Linked DNA regions of Homo sapiens: region 2 is linked to region 1. The links come from fine-mapping of genetic effects on gene expression. A gene starts in region 1. The other region holds a variant in brackets. All regions are shown on one strand. Distances are between the middles of the regions.

Region 1 (11,458 bases):
GGGGGGGGATTCTTTCTTTTTTAACCATTCTTTACTTCAAAATGAAGTCTGACATAAGAAAATTTGAAAAACGTTTTACATTAACTCTGCATCCCTTTAAAGGTTTATTTTTCTTTCTGTGAAAATAAAAGTTCCTTGAGAAGTCTTTGAGAATGGATTGTTTTAATGAAGTAAAATTTCCCCTAATCTACATGCTGTTTCATAAGTTATACTTTTTGACAAAAAAAAAAGTTTTAAGAATACACAATAAGCTGTAATTTCATGAGTATAGTTTACAGAAAATCCATCTATAATTGGCCATATGTTAAAAGGTAGCTGAATTAATTTTGAATGGCAATACTCAGAAATCTACTCACATGCCAATACAATGATTTTCAAACAAAAAAGGATTAAATGTCTGACATACTATGTATTTTCCTGTTAACTGTCCATCTCCCTTCAGCTGTATGCTCAATAAATATTTGGGGAAAGAATGAAGACAGACAGGTGGGTATTTAGAAGGGTTATAACACCACCCACAAAATGATCTCTGTATCTTCACCATCCAACACCTACCCACTCACAATCTATAGAACCGAGAGGACTAAATCAGGCCTTTTCAGTTTGCTTTCCCATCCTGCTTAATGGCCACATAGATTACCAACAGACCAGAGCGGGCCTGGCCCAGGTCTCAATAGTGAAGTGGAGAAGATAAGTCTCTAACGGTCTTCAAGGACAATACATTTGTGGGAATACCATCTTCCTGCAAAATATACTTTCTGCAAAGACAAAATGAGTTATGCTTATCAATTTATGTTTGGGTGGTGATGTAGATAGACTGCAAGGGAAGAAACAAAGTTCACCAGGGATTAGCTACCATGAGATTACTGAGATTTTGCTTTGTTGGAGGCTAAATGTAACTTTACGAAATGTGGGAAAAAATGCCTCATACATCTCAAGTAAATAAAGTACTGTGGTGCCTAGCCCTTCCCTGGATAGTCACATTCCTCGTAACAAGCTTCTATTGAGTATACAGAAGGGACAAAAAAGTAAAAACTGTCAAAATCTGGAATAGACAACCCTGGTACAGTTGGCACACATATCAAGTAATCCCGACCTCCAGAAATGGCAAGGACCATTTAGAGCGCTATAGGCCCTCTAAAGATGATGCTCATGAGTGGTAGGGAATACCCAATGCACGAGTTAACAGGACAGTGCAATCACATTTATGGCACATTAGAGGAGATGTGACCATACAATCATTAAGTTCAATACCCTAATTTTACAGAGAACTTAAGGCCCAGGGACTTGCCTAATACTACAACGTAACAGAACTGGGATTTAAACCTAGGATCTCAGACTCTCATTCCAGTAGGCTCTCCATTAAAATATGCTTACTTATGTTACTACTTTGGAGAAGGAAAATATATACATACACACAACACACTCCATTTCTTCAGTTTGATACTTACAATTTAATGTATTAAAAATATGTTGTAACATGAAAAATCTGAATTATAAAAAATTAAGGCCAGGAGAGGTAGCTCATGCCTATAAACTCAGCACTTTGGGAGGCCAAGGTGGGAGGCTCTCTTCAGCCCAGATTTGGAGACCAGCCTGGGCGATATAGAGAGACCGCCATCTCCACCAAAAAAAAAAAAAAAAAAAAAAAATTAGCCAGGTGTGGTGGTGTGCCTGAAGTCCCAATTACTTGGGAGGCTGAGGCAGGAGGAATGCCTGATCCTGGGAGTTTGAGGCGGCACTGAGCACTGATTGTGTCACTGCGCTTCAGTCTGGGTGACAGAGCAAGCCCCTGTCTCAAAAAACAAACAAAAATTTAAAACTTTAATTTGAATCTCTCTAAAGTTCTTCAACCTTCAAGTAATTTACAAACCTACATATAACAATTCTTTTAAAAATCCTGAAATCACTTTCTCCCCAGTCTCACTCCAATTTAATATTATTCCTTTCAGGATCTAGATATAAATACAGTTTTTGCCACTAGACAACTGTCTTCTCATACACCGGGAACAGTCTTTTGTTAGCTACAAAAATAACAAAATGCAAACTTCTGGTCGATAAGTAAGGTGAAAAAATAATCTTAAGCCCCTAATACTACACATTCAAATGTTTTAAGATGAAATTTCTTCGACGTTTTTCATATTACCAATTTTAACGATCTAGGAAAAAAAAACTACAGTATATTACAGCAAATTAAATGGTAGTCTTCCATTTAATAATTAAAAGCTAATTTTAAGTTGTCTAGACTCCTTAACTCTAGCATACTTTAAGTTATTGTGGATTTTTCCCCTTTCAAGAATGCTTTTTTGTAAAGCCCATTTAACAAGCTTCCTTTTCTTGCCAATTTGACCTAGTGTATTTCCAGTGCTATAAAGTGTAAACATTAGGAATGTATCTTTGTGTTAAATGTTCTGGTCTCTCAAACGATTTCAACTTTGATGGATGCAATAGATCTAACAATGTTCCCCCTTTAACAACTCCTCATCTGCCTAACCTCATAGGTAGGAGGTATTGTTTGGATTTTCCCTGCTGCGGGCTTCATTACACTAGATCTCTTCCATCTGAACTATAAATCACAATTCAAGCTTGAGAGCAGCTGCCACTGTCCAGACATGTGGCTGGTGGGTGTCATTGTCTTTTTCATTTTCCTCATTTCAAACCCTCCCTTCCCTTGTCACCTAAAGCCATTTTATCTAAAGGTTCTTTGCTTCCCTGCTTTCATGCCGCCACCCCCACCCTCACCCCTTAACCACCGGTCTTGTTCTTCCAGGTCAGCCCAGTCAGATACAATATTACTCTATGTTTTTCCTGTGGCGGAGGCGGAGAGATGTCAGAACGGGCTGCACCTCTTGCAAACCCCTTCTCAAGACTGTCAACAAGGAAACAACTTCAGCAGCCTATCTCCCCAAAGTACCTCGCCAAACGAAAAAGTTATTGTTAATTATGATACGGAACCTTTCCCACACCCAATCTTGACATACCAGCCCCACCTCAATTTCCAAGCTAATAAACAACAGCTCATCTTCTGCTTCATCACAAAGGGTGGTATCCAGTCCGCACCTCACGGACCACCAACAAAATCCTCTCACTCTCAAGTCGATCCCTCGAACCCAGGTGCCCCGCGATCCTAAGCCCTGCCGCGTTTCCCGAGCCCAGCTCACTGCCCTTCCTCCTCTACCCCGCCTCTGCCCCACATCCAGCCGAGTTCCTGTCAACTCCAGACAGGGAACAGAGGGCTCCGCGAGGGCTTCCCGAGGTCAGAGGCGCGGGCCTCGGGCAAGCCCCGGGCGACCCCACCCCCCCACAGGCGCCCCCCTCCCCGCCCCACAACAAGCACCCCATCCCCCGGGCCTCCTCCCCGCTCACCTAACGCCACCTCGCAAGCTTTGCGCAGCTGGGAGTGATGCGCCTTCTTCACTTCCTTGTCGGCCAATATCTTCTCCAGAGCCCGGGTCAGGAACATGTTCTTCGTCTTCTTCCCCTCATACATGGACGCAGAGAAGGAGGCGGCGGCTCGTCCGACCCGCGGCTCCCAGCGGCTGGAGGGGAGGAGGAGGAGAGGAAGGAAGAGAAGAGAGAAAGGAGAGGGGGTGGAGGTGGGGGATTGGAGGCGTGGAGGGCAGCGGCAGGATCAGGAAGGGGCGGGCGAGCGGGACCAGCCGCGGTGTCGGCGAAGGGCGTCGAGGTCCTCGCCGCCCCCAAGAAGCCGTACCTCGAGGGCCGCGCCCGTCGGGCCTCCGCTTCTCCCGGCCCGGGGGTCGCGTCCCGGCCGCCCCTCTCACTCGTCCCTCCGGCCCTGGTGGCGGTGAGGGAGCCCGGCCCGGGCGGCTGTCTGCCGGGAACTGAGGGACGAGGTGGCGGCGGCTCTCAGAGGCACCGCGAGAGAAGGGCTACCCTGGCTACTGTGGGGATTAGCACCCGCCGCGGCCGCGAACTGGCCCCCATCACCGCCGACCTGCCCCGGCCGCCATGTTGGGAGGAAACGACGCGTCACGCAGCGGCCGAACGGCTGCAGACGAGGAAGCGGCGGCGGCGGCGGCGGCGGCGGCGCTCCCTGCCCAGAGCTGCCGCGGCGCCGGGAGGCTGGGGGCGGAGGGCGGCGCGGGAGGAGCGGCCCGAGCCGCAGCGCTACGGCGGCCCGGCGGGGCCTCCAGCGTTCGCCTGCAGGGCGGCGTGGGGCGTGGCGGGCCTCTGGTGGCACCGCGCCCAGCACTTCGGGCTCTTGGTGGCGGCCGAGCTGCGGGACCAGAGATCCCCCCACTCGGCACCCCTGCTCCTGCCGAGTGAACAGGACTCCTGGCTACTCTGCACTGGCTTTCTAACTTTCTGATGGGGGTGCAGTCCTTTGCATTCCAGGGGTCACAGCAACACCCGCATCGCCCGTTCTCAGCCGCAGGGTCTCCGCCTGCATCACTCGACTCTAAAATTTCCTTCCCTAGTGCACGGAACTGCTGTCCAGGACTCTGCTCTCCGACTACCTCAGGGAGGATTCTGTTTTGGGAAAAGTAAGCCAAAACCTATTGATAAGGGTTCAAAAATGTTTCACTTTTTTCTCTCTCTGTCGGATAAATCGGTCAACTCTAGATTTCAGGTCCCTTCTGAATTGACTCAGTTAAGGTGAATGGTTGTGAATGAGGTCCCTTAGAGTTCTGTGTTTCTGTGCCTTTAATACTAAGATTTAGTCCAGGACATGTAAACCAGTTTAGAATGGAAAAGCTTTAAGTACAAACAGATTAACACACGTGACCATGTGTTTGCTTTAGTCTGAGTGTAGAACTCAAATTTCTGCAGTATTTAATTTCTACAGTTTCCTTCTGAGCAGAAAAAGAATACCATAAAAATATTTGCAAACATTATATATGGTGATCTAGGGTCACGTCTCCAAGTTCTAAGCTTCTGTGGCTCCACGCACACAGGTTCCCTAATGTTTACTATGCATCTGTCACTGTTCTGTTCTATTAGATTGCCTTAACTATAGGCTTGTCCTAACGTAACCATCCAAACCTAAGGAAGGAGAAACTTAAGTGACTCTGTGAACTTAGTGAAGTGACCAGATTTAGGAAGGCTAAAACCCAGAGGAAATAAAATGGAAAACTTGAAGGTGACAAATTAAAGTGGAAAAATAGATTAATTTTTTTAAACTTTATTGTCCTGAGAAACAAATCTATAAATTCATTAATTTTATTTTAGAGACTATCTCTAGATTCCTGGAAATGAAGGATTCATTATACTCTTAGATCAGATATAATACTGATTTCTGTGTATACGTTAATAAACTTTTTTAGAACAAGTTCCATTTCTTTTATTTTTTTCTTCCCTTCTTTCACAGGTGTTGATCCATTTCTAATTCATCTTTGTTTCTTCATAATGGAGTGTTGTGCCAGGTACTGTTGAGGGTACTAGCTGATCACCAAACCCATTTACTCTTCTTTCTTAGTATAGAATTGCATTGTCCAGCCTCCCTTGAAGTTAGGTGTAGCCATCCAGGCTTAACCTATTGTTAAAAAACCAACAAGAAATTCCCACAAGCAATCTTTCATGCTGTTTCCCTTTTTTTTTTTTTTCTTTTGGTAGAGATGGCATCTCACCATGTTGAACTCGTGGCCTCAAGCGATCCTCCTGCCTCAGCCTCCCAGTGCTGAGATTACAGGCATAAGCCACCATGCCCAGTCTCTCTTTTCCCTTCTATGGCCACAGCTGAAGATGGCAGAACCACAAGTTAGGAGTCTTAGTTTCTGAATTGGAACTCTTGGAGAAGAACCATCTAGAATAACTATTTTGTACTTTACATGAACGAAGCAGACTCTTCGGTTATGTTTAGCTGTCAGCTTTATCGTAAAACATACTTGGGATTCATTGATGAACAAGACAAGCTGGCACCTGTAGTCCCAGCACTTTGGGAGGCCAAGGCAGGAGAATGGCTTGAGGCCGGGATTTGCAGATGAAACTGGGCAACGTAGCAAGACACTGTCTTTACAAAAAATAAAGAAAAATTAGCCAGGCACGGTGGCATCCACCTGTAGTTGCAGCTGCTCAGGAGACTGAGGAGGAAGGATCGCTTGAGCTCAGGAGTTCGAGGCTGCAGTGAACTATGATATGATAGTGCCACAGCATTCATAATCATCTCATCTGCTTGCCTTGCTTGTTGATTGGTTGCATGTTTCTCTCATAAGTGCAGGGACCTCATATCTCTGTCTATTCACTTCTGTGTGCCCATCATCTATTATATTGCTGGCATAGAGAAGGCCTTTGCTATAAACTTATAGAAACTTGGATAAATGAAAGGCACCAGGCTAAGACAAGCATGATACCTGCCCTTTTGGACCTTACAGTATAGAGTAGGGAAAAGATATTAAGTCAGTAGTGAATATACAATTACAAATCTGTTGAGTATGATTAAAGAATAGAGTGCTGTGAGAGAAGGGAGAAGTAAATTAAATTGAGACCTGAAAGAAGAGTAGACATTAGCCAAACTAAGTCATGAAGAACTTTCCAGGCAAAGTCTCTTGGGGTAGGGGGAAGCTTGGCAAGTTTCAGGAAACAAAACAAGGCAGTGTGGCTGAAAGGATCAAGGAGAATGGTGCCAGTCAGGATGAAGAGGGAGCTAGGAACCAGATCATTCAGACTCTCGTAGGCCATGTTAGGGGGTTGCAATTTCATCGTAATAACAATGGAAATTCATTGAAAGGTTTTAAAAGTGGGGGATAAAGTGATCAAATTGGTGATTTTAAAATAATCCCTCTGTTACATGGAGAATGGATTGGAGGGGGAGAAGTGAGGATGTGGCAAAACATTTTAAGAAATTTATTACAACAGCGCAGGATGGCTTGGTCAGGTCCAGGGCCACCAAGCAAGGTTGTGGAGATCGTGGCACAAGGGAGCAAGTGTGGCTGAAATCCAGCCCCACTGTCTGCCCAAAAGAAGAGGCTTCTTTCACTAATTTGCATAAAGGTTAGCCCAGAAATGACAGTGGTAGCATGGAGATGGAGCAAAGTAGACAGATTTGGGATATACTTTGGTGGCAGAATAAACCGGACTTAATTAACTGGAGTGCAGGTTAGAGAGAGAAAGAGGTCACAAATGAATACCAGGTTTCTGCTGGGAACCAGTGAACAGTTGGAAATGCCATTTGTAGAGATAGGCTAGATGGAAGATTTGAGGGTAAAGAGTGTAGTTGTCAGTTTCAGAAGAATAAACTCCTCTGAGATATGACCTAACCCTCCCAGAAGGAATGATTTGCATCTTCCTTTGGGAGGACAACTCATCCTCTTCCCTTGCTGGGTTTACCCAAAAGGTGGTGGTGCTTGAGGGTGGAGGGGGGTAGGAGTAGTCTTACGAGATGGGCACTCCTATCCACTTGAAACTCAAGATACTAACTCAGACCTGTAGCAAAAATAGAGTAAGACTCTAGAATAAAGCTGATGCTCTTGGATATTTTCAATCTTTTATTGACAGGTACACAGGGAGTGGCAAAGGAGATTTTTACATGAAATTATGAGTACAGACCAGGCACTGTGGCTCATTCCTGTAAACCCAGCACTTTGGGAGGCTGAGGCGGGTGGATCACCTGAGGTCAGGAGTTCAGGACCAGCCTGGCCAACATGGTGAAACCCCGTTTCTACTAAAAATACAAAATTAGGTGGGCGTGGTGGCGGGTGCCTGTAATCCCAGATACTCAGGAGGCTGAGATAGGAGAATCGCTTGAACCCAGGAGGCGGAGGTTGCAGTGAGCCAAGATCATGCTGCTGCACTCCAGCCGGAGCAACAGAGTGAGACTCGATCTCAATTAAAAAAAAAAAGAAAAGAAATTATGAGTACATTCCCCTGTATATATATATTTTTTACTTTTTATTATTAATGTTGTTTGGTGCTAATATACAGCTATGTAAATAAATGCAATCTCAGTATTCACTTGCACTTGGCTCCTTGCAGTTTTCAAAACATCCAAATTCTATTTCTGAATTTCTAAAATATCTATCCTCTAAATTTTGAAATATATTTTTCCTTTTTTTGTTTTGTTTTATTTTTTGTTTTTTGTTATTATTATTTTTTGAGACGGAGTCTCACTTTGTTACCCGGGTTGGAGTGCAGTGGAACGATCTCGGCTCACTGCAACCTCCGCCTCCCGAGTTCAAGCAGTTCTCTTGCCTCAGCCTCCTGAGTAGCTGGGATTACAGGCGCCCACCACTAAGCCCAGCTATATATTTTTCTTATACATAATTGCTTTCCTGAGTCCATTTTGCCTCTCAGTTTGCACTCTCACCTTCCTATCACCTAATTCCCCCTCATCATTTCCCCTTCCATCTGTTAGTTTGCTGCGTACTAGCTGCTTTGGCTTTACTTCTTGGATAATTTTCCCACTTGTTTCCAAAGAGTCAAATAATATCAAGCAATAAAAGACTTTGATCTGGGTTTTAGCATCTTTATTGGTGTGCTTTATCATAGTCCTTTTAAATATAGATATACATTGAGTGTAACACAAAGATTAAAATCTGAATAAAATTTTAATTAATGTGGAGCATATTTGGTTGATGTTGAAAGCCAATATTAGTTAACATAAAAAATAACATCATGTTTACTTGACTAAAAAAAACTATGTGATGCCTCCGGTAGTCTTTCTCACATAATCTCAGAATTTAAACATTCCATAATCTGACTCCTGACATTGGTAGAGGAGGAAAAAAATTATTTTCCCTCTACCCGTGTTGTTAGTTCATTGGCTGGGGCTCTGCAAATTAGATGGACAAAAGACAGATTAATAAAAGCAAAGATGTATTAACCTGTGCGTGGTACAGTTATGGGAGTACTCAGTGATGAGTAACTCAAAAGTGTGGTGGTTAGAACTTGTTCTTCCATAGCATCGTAATAAAATAACAATAAATTTTTAGAAAAATCCTACAAAGGAAAGGACTTTGAGTTTCTAGCGTAGCAAATTTGGGAAGCAAATTTGAGAGAACTAGCAGAAGATGAAAGCTAGGTAATAAAATTTGTTATGTATTATTGAATCCTAAGGGTCCAGAGTTGTCTCCAGTGATTAACTTTTGTCTTTCCTGGTAAAGGGGTGGGGGTGTGGGAGTGGGCGGGGAGGAGACACCTTTACAAAGCCAGGATTACAATTTGGCAAGTCTAGCTCCAGAGCCCATATTCTAAATAACTAAACTATGCCGCCTCTAACAGTTTAGTTTGTCTTTTATGGTAATGCCCCAGTCCCTCTTCCTCAATTGTACACATGTAGGCACTCGTGTTCCAGCTCATTCCCTTCTCCAAATCACCCTCTACCTTTTATCCCCATGCAACGTACTCATATAAACACCAAGTTCATTCACACCTGTGTGCCTTTGTTCGTCTTTCAAATGATCCAGAGTGCTCACTGCCACCTTTCTTTTATTTGTTCTCCCCAAAGGCTTCCCAACCTTCAAAGTCTCTTTGAAATTCCATCCTCTCCTAAAAGTTCTTTCTTCTACCTGCAGTAACACTATTCTCTCCCTTCTGTGTCTACACTTTATGCCTAACTGTCCCCAGTAGTGTTGAATTCTCTACTTTTAAGTTTTTGAAGACTAGGCATACACAAAAAGATGAGGCAGCCAACTTAGCAAAAGATGAGAAACATTGATTAAACAGAAACAATCAGTTTTGCTGAAACCACAATAATGGCATGACTAATAGAAGAAAGGCCATCTCCAAAATAAATGGTCTGCTTTCTTGGCTTTTCATGTAAGCTAATTTGATATTCCACTTTCACTAGTCTGCTTGTTTTTACCTCATTTATTAAGACAGTAAATGGATATAGTGTATCTTTAGCCAAGCGCAGTGGCTCATTCCCATAATCGCAGCACTTTGGGAGGCCGAGGCAAGCAGATCACCTGAGTTCAGGAGTTTGAGAACGACCTGGCCAACATGGTGACACCTGGTCTCTACCAAAAAAAAGAAAAAAAAAAAAATTAGCAGGGTGTGATGGCACATGCCTGTAATCTCAGCCACTTGGAAGGCTGAGGCAGGAGAATCGCTTGAACCTGGGAGGCGAAGGTTCAACGAGCTGAAATTTGCACCACTGCACTCCAGCCTGGGTGACAAGAGTGAAACTCAGTCTCCAAAAAAATAAAAAAGGATATAGTGTATCTTTAAACTGGGTGGTTCTACTTGTTGTCCTGCAGGCAAGGTATCAAGACATTGGACAGGGCAGACAGAGGGAGAGCATTGTGTATTAAAGAATTTGATTTAGAAAGAAAAGAAAGCAAATTTTTATTGAAAAAGAGACTATAAGGTGGTATTTGATAAAGAGAACATTCCAAAAAGTTAGAATGTGGTTGCAAAAAAATAAATAAATAAATACAAATCTAGAGCCATATGGCTTTTCGTGAATTTAAAACCATCCAATGCTAATCTTTTACAGAATAACAAAATTGAAAGCATAAACTCTTAAATTTTCCTACTATGTTTGGTTTCACAATTCTCTAGCATGACGAAAGGTACTTACTTTTAATCTATAGCACTGTACTCTACTTTTCTCTACACAGTTGTAATTTTTCCCGGAAAGTCACACCAATGATAGCTACTACTTATTGGATATTTACTTTGTATGAAGCTCTTGGCAAGCATTAAGTCACTTAATCCTTAATCCACAACTCAGTGATACATATATTATTATTTCTTTTTTATAGTTGAGAAGGAAAAAAGTTCAACAAGTTAATTGCCCAAGGTTACAGTGTAGCACAACCAAATACAAATCTAAGTTTGTCATTTGCCATAATCCATGGATGCTCTTAACCATTGTTTCATCCTATTTCTTTCTTCGTCACATATTTCTAAATATCCGTTTGAGATGACTTCTCACCAGTATTGTGCCATAATTATTTTAAGGCAGGACCACATTGTCTCTTTCTTTTGAAACTACCCTCAACAGTTAGTACACTGAAAATAATTTTAAGTGTTAATGAATAAGTGGACATTAATCTTTCTAATGAGGTCAGGTTTTCCAAAATTTTTTTAATGGGAATTTTTTTATTAAAAGCCTGCCTTTTGAGGGAGGTGGGGGGGTCAGCCCCCCGCCCGGCCAGCCGCCCCGTCCGGGAGGTGAGGGGTGCCTCTGCCCGGCCGCCCCTACTGGGAAGTGAGGAGCCCCTCTGCCAGGCCACCACCCTGTCTGGGAGGTGTACCCAACAGCTCATTGAGAACGGGCCATGATGACAATGGCGGTTTTGTGGAATAGAAAGGGGGGAAAGGTGGGGAAAAGATTGAGAAATCGGATGGTTGCCGTGTCTGTGTAGAAAGAAGTAGACATGGGAGACTTTTCATTTTGTTCTGTACTAAGAATAATTCTTCTGCCTTGGGATCCTGTTGATCTGTGACCTTACCCCCAACCCTGTGCTCTCTGAAACATGTGCTGTGTCCACTCAGGGTTCAATGGATTAAGGGCGGTGCAAGATGTGCTTTGTTAAACAGATGCTTGAAGGCAGCA
Region 2 (11,458 bases), 620 kb after region 1:
TTACAAAATGTATTTTGAATATTCTAGACACAACTTTATCTCAAGTTTTCTTGTACCACTTCATAATGAAACCTCTGGCAGAGACTTCTAAGTGTCCCCAGTACCCAATGTTCTTTTCTTCTATAGTGATAAAAGTTTTAGGTCCAGCTTAAGACTACATTTCTCAGCCTCCCATGCAGATAAGTGTGGGCCTATGTAAAGGTTCTGGGTAGTGGGGTGTGAGCAGAAGTGGCCTGGGTAACTTCTGCAGTGTGCCCTTATTGTGAAGAGTGTGCATTCTCTTTTCTCCTTTCCCTCTTCTCCCTGGCTGGTATGAGGATGTGATGGCAGGTGATGGGGCAGCAATTTTAGAACATGAAATGGAAGGTACATGTTCAGGGTGACAGAGCAACAAAATAGAAGGAGACTATATCTTTATTATTTCTTATTAAGACCATGTCTTAAAGCAGGCTAACCTATGTCCTGTCAAAAATGGGCCTATAAGAGAAATCAATATTTATTTAACTCTGTCCTAAAATCATCACATTTTGATACCAAGGCCTCATTGACTTATGCAAATCATTAATGAATTGGCCAACTTTAGTATCTTTTTTCTGTCTTTGTCTAATATTTTTAGTTTATTTTTTGTTTTTTCTTTAATAAATCTCTAGTTCAGCCATAATTTCCCCAGATTACGCTAAAACTGCACTTTTTTGTTTTCAATAATTATACTTTAGTTTTTCCTTTAGAAAAAGAATAGTATTTTTTTTTTACCTGTACTTAACATATTCTTTTTTTCCTGAAGGCCAGAATTTTGTGTTTATTCGTAAGGATATTTGTTCAGCTGCCTTAACTGAGACCAAATAACAATAGTTTGAACAATGCAGAAGGATTGTTTGTGGCTAGGAAAGCCATATGTAATCAACATGGCCTTTTTTGCATTCTCTCTTAGAACTCTGGTTATTTAATTTTTAAATTAAATATACCCCAGTGGTGTTCCAGTGGGGTTAGCCGCTCAGCCACATCAGGTTATTCAGAGACTCCTGCTTCTTTTATCTTATTGCTCTACCAGCCCCTAGGACCAATGAAATCTGAGTATGTGGGGGTGAGAGCCAGGCCTCAGTATTTATGTAGATTCTCTAGGTGTTTCCAATGGGTTAGAGAAGGTGGGGGAACCAGTATAGTAGGGTGTTGTCCTTTTCCCTATGGTTGAAGCTGACTTACCACTACACTTTTCACATTCCAGCCCTAGGGGGACAGAGGGTGGGAGACAAAGTGGAGGGCAAGCACTCCCTTTAAGGATATGACCCAGAAATGACACACATCACTTTCACTCTCATCCCCACGACCAGATCTTTGTAACATGGCTAATCCAGCTCTAAGGGAGACTGGGAAATACGCTGACTGGCTGGACAGCCATGTGCCCAGCTGAAACTTAGGGAGTTCTACACTGAAATAATGACATGGGAATAAATATTGAGGGGCAAAGGGTCATCTCTGCCACATTTTGAATCCATTGATACTTTAGTCTCCTGTCCTCAGAAAATCATTTATATTAATTATTGGATTCCTTTACTGTAAGAACCTATTGTATTTAAAATATAATTTGGATTATTTCCCTCTAAAATAATATATTCTTTCCCACATAGCAATCCATCTAACATTTATCTCTCTCTTCAGATATATTTGTAAGAGCTCCAGAGCTCTCAAGGTTGTTTTTGTTTTTTTTTCCATTGGCTTTCACTACAGAAAGGCTTTGGGGTATTTGGTGATTTTATGTAATTTTAAAATTTTGTGGAAGTTTCCAGAAAAAAAATTCCAAGATAATATGGAAATTCTGTTTTTGTTATGTGTTTCTTATGTGTTAGGCACTGCATATTCATTAACTCACGACTTAGAACTATCTTCAAGCCTCGGATCATTGTAAACTCACACCTGGGGACATTTTGGTCAGTTCCTATTTGGGAGAGTGGGGATTCTGAAAAGATCCACTGCAAAAGTTATATAGCTCTTCCAAGATGTTCTGCTGATGAATCACAGCCCGGACTCTTCTGGATTGTGGGAATGGTGTGATTAATCAGGACTAGGAAAACCAAGGCAGTTGCTGGAGTAGGGACGCAGAACTTGTTGACTCCGGAAGTACACAGAAGCTAGAAATCAGGAAGGAACAGTAGTTCATTTCAGGCAAACCATCAAGCGCAAGAGAGCAACAGGAGCTTATGGTCAATCCAAGACAGGGTTAGAGCCAGGCAAGCACTCAGGAGCCAAAGATTACCCAGAAGTCAGGAGTTTCCCTCACAGAAATAAGGAAACACATGAAACTTTCAGAAATAGAAAACCTTAGTTCTCCCATTGGCATATCTGTTAATATATGTTGGTACTGATGCTATTTTCAGCTTAATTTAAGTCCTCTGGGATCATTTTGGATCTCTGTGTATTTACAGTGCTTCCTAACAGGTTTGAACCCTTGGCTTTGTGTTTAAATATAGCTCGTGTTTATCCTATATATGATCAAATCACAAGACATTTGAGGCAAAGATATAAAATTAGTTTGTATAATTAACATATGTAATTATTATGAGTGTATATGTATATATATATGTGTGTGTATATATATATATGTGTATATGTATATATATACACACACACTGTCCAAAATGTGTGTATGTCTGCATTCAGTGGATGTTCTATTGATTGCTTAGGTGAAAAGCATTAATGTAGTTTAAACATATATTAAATGAATCCATTGTTAAAAATGATCACTATTCTTGAGAGTGTTCTGTTTGCCAGACCTACTTTGTTTGACAGGATAGAGGAGGGAGAGTAAACGGCCTTCTGGTAGTCATAGAATGAAGTTTGGTAAATGGGTCATGTTACATAGCTAGAGACATTTTCCTCAGTTTCTAGCAAGGACAATTAGCACAACCATATGATTTTTAGGGTCCAAAAAGGAATCATGTTATTCATGGAAGAGCATAGCTTTCAATTAAAATAGGAGAAGTTGATGTTTCTCCTGTATAATTTTTAGTGCGCTAATAATTCTCACATGTAAGTTGGGTCTTCTCTGTATCATTAAATGTTTTGAGGGTAGCAAATATTCTTTGTGATTTAAGATTTTTAAAAAATTTCTACTTATGGTTTACTTCATTATGAGGAACATGATAAGTTGGATTGTCAGAAAATTTGAGAGCTTAGTACTTGACTGGATCTTCAATTTTAAATATATGTATTTCTATAGATGAGGATTTGGGTCAGATTCACCTTTGATGATGTTGTGAAAATATAAGCAAACCGTAATGAGAGATCTAGGTAGTCAGCTAGGATATTTGAATAAATTTTTTAAAAAGAAAATGTCTGCTAACATTTAAAGAAAATAAATTGCCTATAGTTTTACTATGTTGTACTATATATCCTTCCTACAAATTATTTCTTTTCCAGTATGTCACAATTCAAAGTTCCAACTCCTCTATGATATTCTGTAATTTCCCTTAGTACTGAATATGTGTTAAGTAAAATCTACAGGTTTTTTTTTTTCCAAATAATACAGAACTAAAAAATCTGTAAAAGAGAAAAAAGGAATTACCATAAAATGCATCAATCTGGGCAGAGCTTGGAAGGCTGAAGTGGGAGCATCTTTTAAGCTCAGGAGTTCAAATCTAGCCTGGGCAACATGGTGAGACCTCTGTCTCTAAAAAACAAACAAACAACAAAAAACAACAACAACAACAAAAAGAAAATGCAACCAGAGCTATTTATAAATTAATGTGCAAAACCAACTTTATTAAGTGAAAAAACTTATTTTCAGCAATGAATCAGGCAACCTAAAAAATAACCCCTAATATGCTAAGCATTGTGATTGATTCTCTCCAATGATTGCTTTCAAAATCCAGATATTTTTATTCTTCATGGTCCAAGGCATATTTCTTGAGCACCTACTGTCTGCCAATCACTATTCAAGGTTCAGAGGATATAGCACTGACAAGCATTACAAATTCCTGCTTTCATGGAGCTCTGACTCTAACCTAGGAGCTACAAGATAAATGAGTAAAATATATGATGTATTAGCTAGTCTAAGTGCCTGGGAGAATAAGTGAAGCAGAGAAGAGGAATAAGTGTGCATGTGTTTTGACATTTTATGTAAGATGAAAAAGCAGGCATTCACTCTTTTCTGTCACTCTTCTTTTTTGTAAATCTCTAAAAATATTTGAAAGAATTTTTATTTTTTACTGTTAACCTTAACAGGCAATATCCAGGAGGAAAGTGCCAATTGATTTCTTGTTTAAATCTTCAGTGTAGTGATAATTCAGAGGTGAGATTAAACCCAGATGTACATTGCTAATAAATAAAGTTAATAGAACAGATTAGAAAAAGCATGGTGACACTAAGACTTAAGGCTTTAACTAGTGTCATTCTTTAGTTGTCATTTTTCAGTCTATTGACTTTAATATAATAGGCATATATTTTTTAAAGGTGCAATCTTTAAAATCCACTGCCTCACTCTGTTCTGTGTTTATACCATTGAGGAGCTTATTTTGTGGAGTGTTTTGTCAATAAGGTTTCATGCCCAGCAGCTCCATGTCTAGTGGAACTGCAGCCAACATTCAAATTCATCATGGATGGGAACCCAGCACGCTGTGCAGTTGGGGCACCATAGGCTGAAAAGCTTCTGCTGGAAATGAAGTATCCTTTAGCAGCGAGGGGATGGAAGCATTGAACAAGTGGGGCAGGGGTGGGAATTGGAGATCTTGAATGTGCAGCAGGCTCTAAAAGCCATTTTATGACCATTGCCTTAGATAATCCCAGACGTGAGTTAAAAGCTAAGGTATGAGGTGCTTTCATACATTTTTCTTATTTAAGGCCTTTCCCTGAAAGGGGATGGGAAGGATCAAGAGTACCTTGCATTCTGAGCAAACTGTTGCAAGGACAGAAAACCAAACACCACATGTTCTCACTCATAGGTGGGAATTGAACAATGAGAACACTTGGACACAGGGTGGGGAACATCACACACCTGAGCCTGTCGTGGGGTTGGGGGAGGGATAGCATTAGGAGATATACCTAATGTAAATGACGAGTTAATGGATGCAGCACACCAACACGGCACAGGTATGCATATGTAACAAACCTGCATGTTGTGCACATGTACCCTAGAACTTAAAGTATAAAAAAAAAAAAAAGAGTACCTTGCAAACCCTCCCCGGCTTTCTTCCTGTGGTATTGTCTCTCTGATTGCCCTATAGAAATGACTCCCTTGAGGCTTGTGGACAGCTGGAAGAGGCCCCTATGTGGCCTGTAAAGTGCTATTGGAAGCATCTGCCAGCGACTGGGGAGGGGAAAGGTCACTTGAGGACTGTGGAAAATATTCCCTTTCTCCTTAGCATCCTGGAACGT[C/T]GGCTCTTGACTAAATTGTTAATAGAATCTGGGAGCTCGGATTCTGGTGCTGACATTTTTTTCAGGGTTAGTTCTAGAAATGATATTTCTTAAGCAGCCTTTTGCGGAGCTTCATTCTTTGGTTCACTGAATTCGCAGCACAAAGAAAAGGAAATAGCTTTATTACCATCATCATTACCAACTTCAGAATAGGAATGGGTGAATAATTATATTGGGCTTTTAAAAAGTATAACCAAAGGGAAGGAATTTAGCTGTCTGTATTTTTTTGATAAGGTTATGTGCTTTCTTCTTCCTGTTTCTCTTTAAGGAGACCTTTCTGTGGCTCATACATCATAAAAGTTAAAAGGAAGTGCAAACACAATTACCACAGAAAGTTGAAATCTTTCGCATCCACTTCTCTTTTGTGCTATTTGTGACCTGTCTGCCTGATTGTTTCAAAGTAAGGAAAATCCTGGGTTTCTTATCTATGCTTTTCAGGGGAACTGGTTTTGACTGTGGTTTGAATCTGACAAAATGGAGACAATCAGCCTTAACCTAATAGCCGTTGTACCAAACTAACCCACAAGAATGCAAAGGATACGGGTGAACTTTAAAGGCAAGACTTGCCTAAGGAAATAATGCAAGATACAGTGCCTAGGAAGGAAATCAGATATGTAAAACTCCTTGAACTCTGTAACAGAATTTTCAATCCATCAGTAGCTCTTACTTGGAGGCTTTGAGATTTTCTGCCGCACTCTGCTCAGCGTCTTAATGCTCATGCCAGTCATCAGGTTGTCGTGTGGCTGGGGTCACCATGCCAGAGCCTGACCTGGAGGCCCTGAGTGCTGACAGTGCTCATTTATCAAGAGCACAGTGTTTGGTTGGGGTTATCACTGGGGAGTGAGGCCGCGTTTAGAGTTTGGTCTAAGACAATGTCTGAATGTGGCAGGGGGTCATAAAGGAACCGGGGACAAGGGTTAACCCAGCTCAGTTCTCTCTCTGTGGTCTATGAATGCCACAGCCAAAGCAGCAGCTTCAGAGATCTCTGCTACCTTTTAGAGAAATGTCGTTGCTGTTGCTGAGCCCACTCTCAGGTATTCTGGTCTCATCACCCCCTGTATCTTTTCTCATGCAGGAGCCTCTGGCACTGACTGTGTAGCTTTGAGTGTGGCCTTTAGGCTTGTGATGACTCTGAGGGATGGACCATCCCATAATAATAAGGATTAGGACCAAAATTATAACCCAAGGAGAGGTAGATTTTGATTGCTTTTAAACTTACTTCCTGAGATGATTAGAGTAACATTTGAGACAGTTGGTTTGTAGTTACTCCCTCAAGTCCATTTTCCACCTAGGAAGGTTTATTAATGTTTTATGATTATTGTATAATTTAGAAGAATATTTACCAGCTGCTGGGACCTTCCTCATACATCAAGTCTGGTCTCTTCTGGAGATGGAACCCTCAGGAAAAACTTGAAATTCTTCCTGACAGCTTGTTCGAAGGTTGCCATTTATTTTGGTGAGTGGGTTCATTTTGCTACCGCTGTGTAAAAATGGGAAGTCTCTTCCTTCAGCTCACATACATTCCCAGGTGAGCACAGGTGAAATGTGTTGCTACAAACAAAAGGAAGAGAGTTAGAGAATCTTATGCCCATCATCTGAGTCTCACTCCGGTCTGAAAATTTCTATAATTTCTAAAATTTCTATAGCTCAATTTGCTCTAATTCCTAGTACCTTCCATATTTTTTCCTCTTGGTTGTTTATGCTGTAGTTATAATCTGCTTAGAGATTCCGTAAGTATGGGAAATAGTAAGAGGGAAATCAGCTATCTCCATTTTGGGAAGTCAAAGTGTGAAGTTGTTTTGTTTATTGACCTGATGGTGTATATTTGTGTAACAGTTGTTGAAGGTGAGTTAATCTCGATCTGTTAATCTAAACAGATCGAAATCTATTCCTTGGAGTCATAGCCTCTAAATTTCATGTAAAGCAGTGTAAAGTTCAGATACAGTTTAATCATCAAACTACCGCCCCACACTAAAAAATATAATAAATAAAAAGGCCCAAACCACCAAACCTAAAATGAGAACTATTCCTATTCATATGAAGAAATAGTGTAATGACCATCAGCCTTTCAACAACATGGTATTAATTATGCCAGCAAAAATAACCATACCCCTAATCTATTTTTATGGTCCTATGTCTCTGATGGAACTAATTTTCAAATAAAGCCTAATCACTTACTTGGCAGTTCTCAGCTCCAACAACCTCCTACAGAGATTCTGTTGGGCTGCTAGTTTGGGAAAATATACCAAACATAACTTGGAGTTAGAGTTCTCACACTAATAGCTACAGACTCATGTTTTCTTGATCAAGAGGTAATCCTCTTTCAACTTCAGAGTAAGAAATATGAAATAAATCAGGAGAAAATCATTTTCCTCTTCTGTGATTGTGAAACAACTGATTATCATACAGGAGCCTATTCCAAGTGCATGTCAGGAGGCTTGAGGGTCAGGACAGAGACTGGGGATGCAGGGCTCACTTCATCCACCTGCTAACATAGCAGCAGAAAGGTGCTATGTGCAGCTGTTTTGCAATTATTATTCTTATATTTATTTACCCAATGCAAACAGATTCCCTTTCATCTGTCGTTCTAGTAACAAAGAGTAAATGCCTGAGGCTTTTGGCTAGATTTTACTTTTCACAGGAACTGTTGAAAAGGTTGTCCCATTTCATGGTGTTGCTTTTGTGGAACAGTGATTAAAGTGGTCCCATTGAAGAGTAGGTGCAGGGGTGTAGAGTGGTATAGGGGGTGATAAAGGTAGCTTGGGGCCAGATGGTGAATAACAGTAGAGGTAGTTTAGGACTAATTAGTAGACAGTGTGGGAGCTAGGGGAGATTTTTGAGCAAGGAAGTCAAAACAATGGGCCTTGGTTCAGAAAGCGTCGTCTGGGAGGCCGGCTTCTAGCCAGAGTGCAGGAATGGCTCTGTTGGGCACAGGTGAGACCTGAGAGAGATCAATTCATTAAGCTCAACAAAAGTCAGAAAGACTAAATCGGTGAGGAATATTGCTGATGCTTGGACCTCGGTCCAGACCAGCTTAATTAGAATCTCAGGGTGCGGGGAGAGAGGGTGGAAGTCAAGAATTGCTATTTTTAAAAAGCTCCCCAGGTGATTCTAATGTGGGAGTAGGGTTCAGAAATACAAGGAAATGAATACATGACATTAATATATATATTAATCAAGGATTGAGATACATGCTTTCCAAACTGCCCCTAAAAAATAGGTAATATCATAATAGAATGAATGATGAGAAGAGATGCACTGACAAAATCCACTTATAAAACTAAGAAGTAACTCAACATCGAAGAGGAAACTAAAAAGAAATGAAATTAGCTAGGAGGCTGCATTTATTGGAGATATAGTTATCCATTAATACTTTGCAATAGTAATGAGAAATACTGTTAGTGGAAAAGATATAGTTAAAGTTTTGATTTAACTTAGGTAGAAAGCAGTCAACAAATCATTTTCCATGTGTCTGAGCAAGGCAATAAGACAACAGTGATTAGTGGGAAGTACTCCTGACGTGGGAAAGGAAGTATGCTACTTTGGGAAATAAGGATGTTGTAGAAATTAATATTTTAAAGTCTTTGGAGAATTCCCATGGAGGACTGATGTATTTTCCAAAGTTCTTTGTTGTGATGAGATATGGAGAATTATTTTCTAAGTGCCAATTTGTGAACATAAGCATATGCATGCCAAGGGAGATTTGAAGTGCAAGAAACTGATTTCTGTAAAGCCACTTGTTTGATGTGATGTCCTTAATGGTTTTGTTTTGTTTTCATATTTTCCCTTATGTCTAAAGATATAATTAAAGTTCACTGCCGTGAGGGGCTCAGGTGTCTTTACTTTTGGCTGAATGAGTAATCGCCCTTGATTTCTGATTGCAGTAATTTCTGTAATAAAGCCCATTGGTGATCTCCATAAAACTTATTACCTCTACATATGAGTAAGGAACAAAAGTGTAACTTTGATTTCTTCCTGTTTATGCCATCAGATATAGTCATGTATTCTGTGTTGAAAGTATGTGAAACCTCTTCTGAATCTCATTGCCTCTTGCAGCTCCTGTGTAAATTCTGTCCCAAAGCTTTCAGGTTCCCTGACTACATCGTTGTATTTACTGCTGAATTTACTGCATTCTCTTCCTCTTTCAACTGCTTCCCAACCTGCCTTTCAGACCCTTTTTTTAAGAAGCTAGGCTCCTGAAGGTTCCCCGTGACTATCTTTTAACCATACCTCTTAGTTCTGTCACCAGTTTTGAGCTCCCTTCACTTCCCCGGCATTGTTCATCAGTGTTACTTGTTTGAAATTCCCTCCCTGTAGGGCCTCCCTTAGGTTCCCTGATGAAACTCTACAGTTACCCACTTTTTTTCTAACTTTCATTTCTTACCTTTGCATCCCTTTCTACCTACTTTAATCCCTTCCAGTAAGCTTATCAACTGACCATGGCCTCTGCAATTACCTTTACATAAACCAGATTAAATTATATTGCTCCAGTGAAGATTTTGAATCCCAAAATCATGTCTTCTATATAAGGACATTCCATTGTATGTCTCACTTTTGCCTCAAACTCAACATGTGCAAAACTAAATTCATCATTTTCCCTTAGAGGACATGTAACTCCTCTTTGTCCCTCCCCTATTTTTCTGTAATTGGTCTTCTCTGGTCTCCCTGGACTGGAAGGCTCAGTGTCATCTTTGTCTCCATATCTTTCATCCCTTGTTCAGCCACTCTCAATGCCGTGTTGATTTCTGTTTCTAAGTGTCACTAGATATACCCCTTTCTCCAGGCCTCCCCTGCTTCTTCTCTGAAGTAGTCTCCTTTACTTTAGGGGTGATACGGCAATAAAAGTATGGGCAGACTGATATCCGTCCAACAAACATTCTCAGATTAATCTTCCTAAAAGAATGTTTTCATCTTTTTATTTCATTTTATCATAAACTTTGCCTCCTTGATGCTCAAACATCCTAATTTATCAACTTGTCATTCTAGAGCCTTTTTACAAAAAAGGGCCTTTGGCATATCTGTCAAATTAACTTGCTGTAGCTACTCCTGAAGAATCTCTCCGATAGGGTTCTCAAGTGATCCATCAAACATCTTGCTGATCTGCCTTTCTGCCTCTACTTATGTATGCTCTTCTTTCTTCTTGAATATCCATACTTGAATATCTTTTCTTCTTTCTTCTTGAATATCCATACTCAGGATCCAATTCAAACATCACCTTTTTGTAATGACATCTCTTCCTAGTCTGTTTCATACCACTTTTATCTTCTTGTCACTTCCTATATAGGTTCTTGTCACTACTAACTATAGGTTTTATTGTTGGTAACGCATATCTTAGCACTTCAGTGTTATTGGTCTTGCATTACTATGTATGTGGGTTTTGTGATAATTTTTTTGTGTGGTATATCACAGTTTATAAAACATTATCATATTTGGGCCTGATAGTAAAGCAAGTCAGACATTTTACAGCTGGGAGCAGTTGTATTAGTAGTAGCCCCAGAACACATGGATACCAAGAGTTAAATGTAAAATGTGAAAGTGGAATCTAAGAGTTAACATCAAGAACAGTGCTAGTTCAACTGTTCTAACTTTCAAGGTCCTTTCACTTATTGCAAAACTTAATGCACATTTTTTTCCTTCATATATTCTATAGAACCTAGCATATGTCTATTACATACTAGGTGTTAAGTATCTTATTGGCTGAAGTAGATTAGTATATGCTATAAATAAGAAAATATTCTATGAATTATAAAAATGTGCTATATACCTTTCTTCACTTAGATTGAAAATTGGAGAAAGAGTGAATTATTACTAAAAATTGCTTTGATGTGTTCTGATAAACAGCTTTTTTAAGATAATGTGAATTATAGGAACCTCGTGTTTGAAAGCTTTTCTTTCAGTGGTGCCTTGGTGTACTACTTTGGACTTAGACTAACAAGATACAATTTGCCAGTATCTTGGTTGAGAAGAAACAACATGATTGCCATGAAAAAAGAAAAGAGAGAAAAAAAGTAAAAGAAAAATCTATGGAGTTTTTAAAAAGCATTCTCAT

Direction of the effects. Positions count from the first base shown, and alleles are read on the strand shown. Sizes are in standard deviations (SD) of each study's normalised expression.
In carriers of allele C in region 2, the expression in hippocampus of the gene that starts at base 4,037 in region 1 tends to be higher than with T alone (large effect, 1.7 SD a copy in GTEx).

What was found. PIP is the estimated chance that this variant, and not a neighbour inherited with it, causes the effect.
Region 2: its variant is the best candidate, but not a certain one, in a credible set for the expression of ARFGEF1-DT in hippocampus (GTEx, PIP 0.89).

Annotation. Positions count from the first base shown.
Region 1 is chr8:67,339,798-67,351,255 of GRCh38, forward strand. It overlaps ARFGEF1-DT (ARFGEF1 divergent transcript), which reads left to right and starts at 4,037. Exons shown (of 5, transcript NR_136224.1): 1 at 4,037-4,505. ARFGEF1 (ARF guanine nucleotide exchange factor 1) reads right to left here and starts at 3,984. Exons shown (of 39, transcript NM_006421.5): 1 at 3,367-3,984. The coding sequence starts at 3,490. RefSeq lists enhancers at 2,998-3,678, 9,284-9,784 and silencers at 3,605-3,834, 4,015-4,274.
Region 2 is chr8:67,962,929-67,974,386 of GRCh38, forward strand. All of the region lies in intron 1 of PREX2 (phosphatidylinositol-3,4,5-trisphosphate dependent Rac exchange factor 2), which reads left to right. Among named protein-coding and RNA genes, the nearest start is that of PREX2, 17 kb to the left of the region's middle. RefSeq lists an enhancer at 7,803-8,304. The variant C/T (reference allele first, on the strand shown) is at 5,371.